Regions from separate parts of the Homo sapiens genome. Here region 1 is linked to region 2. The links come from fine-mapping of genetic effects on plasma protein levels. A gene starts in region 2. The other region holds a variant in brackets. All regions are shown on one strand. Distances are between the middles of the regions. Region 1 overlaps INPP1 (inositol polyphosphate-1-phosphatase). Region 2 holds the start of INPP1 (inositol polyphosphate-1-phosphatase).

The links. A credible set is the group of variants that fine-mapping cannot tell apart. PIP is the chance, under the fine-mapping model, that this variant and not a neighbour inherited with it causes the effect. The UK Biobank Pharma Proteomics Project read protein levels with antibody pairs (Olink). The fine-mapping took linkage between variants from a reference panel, not from the people measured, so its PIPs are less certain.
Region 1: its variant is the best candidate, but not a certain one, in a credible set for the plasma level of the INPP1 protein (UK Biobank, PIP 0.58).

Annotation. Positions count from the first base shown.
Region 1 is chr2:190,353,653-190,356,561 of GRCh38, reverse strand. The region is part of intron 2 of INPP1 (inositol polyphosphate-1-phosphatase); the gene reads right to left. Among named protein-coding and RNA genes, the nearest start is that of INPP1, 12 kb to the right of the region's middle. The variant C/A (reference allele first, on the strand shown) is at 1,438.
Region 2 is chr2:190,341,859-190,344,767 of GRCh38, reverse strand. It overlaps INPP1 (inositol polyphosphate-1-phosphatase), which reads right to left and starts at 1,179. Exons shown (of 7, transcript NM_001128928.2): 1 at 807-1,179. It overlaps LOC124906109 (serine/arginine repetitive matrix protein 1), which reads left to right. Exons shown (of 1, transcript XM_047446773.1): 1 at 1-2,909. The coding sequence starts at 452. The coding sequence ends at 1,330. RefSeq lists silencers at 484-813, 884-1,193.

The DNA.
Region 1 (2,909 bases), 12 kb before region 2:
TCAATTTAACCCTGGTGAGTTTCAGCACAAATGCTGCAGTAATCTGGAATTTGTCCTCTTTGGGCCCAACCTTTATTTCCTCAATAATGACCACTCTCACCTGACCTGAGCAGTTGCTGCTTAGCGAGCACAGCAACTTGACCAATGGGAAAGAAGTACTGGCTATTCACTGCAGCCCTGTAATGAACAGGTCTACCGATTTTAGGAATTTCTCATAACACAATAATCAGGTTTTTCAGTTCCAAGGTTATCCCAGAGTTCACTCTTCGTTTTGGCCCTAGGCAACACTGTCATATTTTGTCAAGTTCCAGGTTGAACTGCCCAGTTTCAGATTGAAACCACTTTCACCAGCCATGCTAATGAGCCCAGCATTTGTTCAGCTACTTCCCTTTCTCCAAGGCCCTGGCTCTCCATGTATCCTCAACTCAGTTCACACAGGCAGGCCACAAACCTGAAGGAAGCATTGCACAATTCATCCTAACCTTGAATGGCTCAACTTGAAATAATTTGTCTATGGAGAAACTGAAGGCTACATCTAATGCAGAATTTATTCTTCCATTTTATCAATACATTTATTAAAACTCATGGAAATTATCTTTCAGATGATTTTTTAATTAATTTATTTATTTTTTCAACTTTTATTCTAAGTTCAGGGTTACATGTGCAGGTTTGTTATATAGCTAAACCCATGTCATGGGGTTTGTTGTACAGATTCTTTCATCACTAATGGGTACTAGGCTTGATAACTGCGTGATGAAGTAGATGATTTTTTAAAAAGTAAGTTTACATACTCATCATTCACCTAAGACCACTTTATTTCAACACTGTACTTTAAATAAAAATTATTATAGACTTATGATTAGTAAGTTATGGCATTTACCATAATTTAATAGCCTTGACTATAGAAGAAATTCCTTTTGATTAGTATTTCTCAATGGATGTTCTGAGAGTTACCTGTATCAGAATTACCCAAGATGGCCTTCTAAAAAAACAGATTGCTGGACTCTACCCCAGCTTAGTGAATCAGAATCTCTGGAGACAAGCCCTAGGAATCTGTATTTTTGTCAGCAACCTGTATAACTCTAAACACAGATTTAATAGCTCCAGTTCTCCAGGTTGCTTATTTTTCTTTACCTCTATGCTGGCAATTTTAGTGGCAGCTGGCACCTGCTGGCAGGTATCTTGGTGAAACAATGTAGGTACAATGGTTTTGCTATCTGTTATTCTTGTGCAGAGATAGGTTAAAATTGAAACAGCTAACATTTACTAGGTGCTTACTATATGCCAGGCATCCTTCTAGGCACCTTACATGTATTAACTCATTTAATTCTTATATAACCTTAGGAAGTAGGTACTATTATCTCCATTTTACAGATGAAGAACCTGAGGCACAAGGAGATTGTTTACTGAAAATCACAGAGCTAGGAAGTTGTGGGA[C/A]AAGATTCAAACCTAGGCAAGCTGGCAGAAGCCCCCACTGTTGACCAGTACTCTAGCCAGTGAAATCTTTTCATCAATTGTTAACTATTAAAATAAGGGAAAATCAGTAATTGTTGGATAATAATCATAAGTACATTAGTATTATAAGGTACATTATATAGCAAAAAAAAAAAAAATGCACACACACACACACACACACCCCTAGTTGATATCTGTCACTAGGTTTGATCATTATACGTCACTATTTGACTTCCCTTTTACTCTCAGAAAAACCTTTTCTCCAGCTGATCTTCAGCCTCTGTTAAGGACCCTTCTGGGTAGTAAAAGCTCATCTATTAAGTTCCACTGATGTCTCCCTTAACTGTCATGGCATTGATGGCAGGGGGCATGCCCAATACCTAATTCTTCTGGTGTTAGTTTGTTAAGACTGGGTAGCTTAACAATAAAATCGCACTTTCTCACAGTTCTGGGGACTGGAAGTCCAAGAGCAAGGTGTCAGCAGGACTGGTTTCTCCTGAGGCTTTGCTCCTTGGCTCACAGACGGCCCCTCTCATTGTGGCCTCACCTGGCCTTTCCATCGTGGGCGTTAATCTCTGGCATGTCTCCCTTTTCTTACAAGGACGCCAGTCAGACTGGATAAGGATCCGCCTGTATGACCTCACATAAACTTTAAAGGTCCTATCTGCAAGTACAGTCCCATTCTGAGGTACTGGGGGTTGGGGCTTCAACATGTGAATTTTGAAGTAACATAATTTAGCCCCTAAAACCTCTCCTGAAAGACAGGCCGTGGTTACCTTAGCGACCCAATCTATTAGCTGACACAATCTATTCCTTTGTCTTTTGTTTTCTGGCCAAAAGTGAAAATGGGATAGTGTTTTCCTCCCCATTTATGTCGTCAATAAGAAACATCTGTGAGGCAGTCGTTCCCACTAAAAGCTATTCGCTTTAACAGCCAAGTAATTAATATTGCAGTGAGCACTGAACCTCTCATAAGCCTTGTTTTGTAACAATCTATTTCAAGTCACATTTCAGCAAAATGGGCTTAAAGAAGTTTCATTCCTTCCATCTCAAACCAAATGTACGTATCTATATGTTTAACATAAAATTGTGTCACAATGTCAGATAGAATTAGGGTCTCTTTTGCTTTTGTAGGATTGTCTAGTCCAGTTGGAGAGCTACTAAAGGAATTGAAGTATGTCAGAAGGAAAAAAGGTTCTTAAGACTTTTCTTGGAAACCCAAACCTCTCCACAAAGATAAATCTCAAATTTCCAGCCATTATCAGAACATCAGAGGTTTAAAAATCCTATCTGAATAATTTAGACATATTTCAGATGGGATAAACTATATAGTGGAAAATACACAGGCTTTTGAATCAGAAAGGCCTGGGTTCAAAACATAACTCTGCTACTAACTAGCTGTGTGGCATCAGGTATTTTCTTACCCTCTCTGAGACTCTCTCTTTACCTTTAAT
Region 2 (2,909 bases):
TAAAAATACCTTTAAAATGAGAAATCTCCAAAAAACAAGCCGTGGTTTCTTATAAGTGTTTTTCACAGATGTACTAAAGTAAGCGTTTCCTTTCACACTCTTTGCGCCTAACCGTCTACATGATAGGGCCAAACCCAGGTTAAATATTTTTTTCCAGCTACCACTCTGGACACACCAACTAATTATGCACACCTCACAAAACCACCTTTCAAAATGCAGAGAGAATTAACAGCAAGGAAGTAAAGATTTTTCTAAATATAGTCCCATCATATTTATTTCACACTCATCAAGTAGGTCACTGGAGGTAGCTGGCAGCTAGGGACACTCAGATGCATCTCTCAAAGCCAAGGCTGAGACCAAGGGGTCACTGACAGCTGCGCCATCTACCTGTTGCAGCTGGGCCACTGCTCTGGACAACTGTCAGATCAGCTTCTTCGTCCTACAAATACTAATGACTGGATTTTTAAAATCGTTGTTTGCCACCCTTTCTTCCCGCCCCCCAACCCCATCGGGCCGCTCGGGCAGGGCCAAGGGCGCCGCGGGACTCACGAGCTCCCCTCCGCGCTGGCTGCAGCGGCGATGCCGGGCATGCCTGGCCGGGCCCGGCCGGGGGCGGCCTCGCTGCCGGGGCAGGGACCTCGCAGGCCGGCGCGCAGAGGCGAGGAACCCTCCCGGCGCCATCGACTCACCTACCCGCGGAGAGGCGACGGCGCGCGCCGCTCACCAGCCCGGGCCCCAGATCCAAGGAGGAGGGGCAGCGGCGCGGGGACCCTGTGGTGGGTGTCGTAAGGAGGAAAACGTGTTACCTAAGCCGGGGATGAGGACAGAGCAGGAGGCAGCAGCCTTTCCCTCGAGAAACGGAAGCGGCGGGGAGCAGGAGGAGGAGGAGGCGCGGCCCGGGCGCGAGGTTAGGCGAGGGGCGCTGGGCGTGCGGCCGCAGGCGCGGCCAGAGGACGAGGGTTGGGGAGGACGGCGGAGGTCACGCGAGCGAAGGCGAAGCCCCGGCGACGCACGGCCCCGCTTGGCTCGGCACCGGATCCGAGCTTGGCCTCAGCCAGGCCGCCGCCCCCGGCTTTCCCGCGGGACCGCGGCGTGGAAACGCGCGCTGCCGCCTCGGGGCTCCCGGGACGCGCGGGCCCCCCACGCCTGCCCGAGCCGGGCGTCCGCGACGTCACAAGTGGAGCGCGATGATTCAGAGGGAGGGCCAGGAAGGGAAGGGCTCTGGGGTCAGCTTGGCCACGGCTGCTGTTTCCTTGTCGCCGCCCACGAATTCACTTTTAAATCTTCCTCCTCCATTCATCTGTACTCTCATAGGGGACTGCGGGTTTGACAGATGGGTTGGCAGCTGTGAAGATGGACTTCCTGCCAGTGGTATCCGGGTCCCACTGTTCTAATGGAAATGTCAGGTGTACTGGATGTTCCTCAAGACACAGCAGTGTCTCTGGGCCTTGCCTCTTAAGGAGTGGGCCTCGGGCCACCTGGACAGGAAGCGCATCAAGGGTGGGGAACTTATCTCTCTCCAGCCTTTGGTGCTGTGATACTCAGTGTACCTTAAGGATGGTTTGGGTTGAACCTAGGTAGGAATGGGTGTTGGTGGGCGGGGTGGGGGTGGGGGGAATAGAAACCTTAAAAGGGCAACACAAAGTTTTGAATAGAAGAGGCCAAGCAGCCTCGCCCAGAAGCTGATGTTTGTGAATGTACTGGGCCTTCTAAAGCGGCGCTTCACACACCTTTTCACTTCTTGGCACAGGTAGGAAAGGATGATATTACAAGGGTCAAAATGGGGGTAAACAGAAGAGGCTGCTCCTGCAGAAGGCTTCCTGCAGAAGCCCTTGCACTTGGAGGGCTGGGAAGACCCATGCTGTATCTGCATCCCTGTCATTCGTTTCACGGCATCCAGTTGGGAAGCTCTGCTTAAAGCTTTGTCTGGCACGTTTTCTTAGCTACATTTTTCCACTCCAGCTGAGACTGCCTCACTGAGTTGTCAACACTTGGTCTTCTTCAGCAGTGAGGAACCAACAAGACAGGAGGCTGGGTCAATACTCAACTTGGCAAACTCCAGGAAATGGTGCTTAAAACGTTTGGCTTCTTGAATGGAATTCATGGTACTGCTCCCAGCCTGCACCTGGGTTCTCCAACTTGAGACAATTTCTCCCCGCATCCCCCCACCCTTCCCTGGCTTTCACTCACTAGCAAGTGGGCTGCTTCTACTTTCTTTCTCACATTCATTTCTTAGGTCCATTCTCAGAGCGGTTAGGATTACTGTTTAATTAGCCTCATAATCATATCTATGATGGCAAAATCAAGAAACAATTTAAACATGATTCTTAAAAGTAAGGAGATAAATACCAGAGACATAGAAGGTGAAAGAATTTGCCTCTAGGAAGCAGGAATTTAAATTTGGGGAAGACAGGGTGGAGCAAGGGATATAAATCTAGTCCATTTTTCTTTTCTTTTCTTTTCTTTTTTTTTTATTTTTAAGATAGAGTCTCACTCTGTCGCCCAGGCTGGAGTGCAGTGGCATGATCTTGGCTCACTGCAACCTCTGCCTCCTTCGTTCAAGCGATTCTCCCACCTCAGCCTCCCTAGTAACTGGGATTACAAGTGACTGCCACTATGCCCAGCTAATTTTGTATTTTTAGTAGAGACGAGGTTTCACCATGTTGGCCAGGCTGGTCTCGAACTCCTGACCTCAGGGGATCCGCCCAGCTCAGCCTCCCAAAGTGCTAGGATTCCAGGCGTGAGCCACTGCACCTGGCGGAATCTAGTCCATTTTCCACTTTGCTACCACACATCTGCAGGGTTTCTTGCTTGCTTAAAAGCTTTCATTGGCTCCCAATCTCTGATAATATCAAGAGCAAGTTCCTGAACAACTCATTCAAGACCCATCACCCCTCGCATCTGTCAAC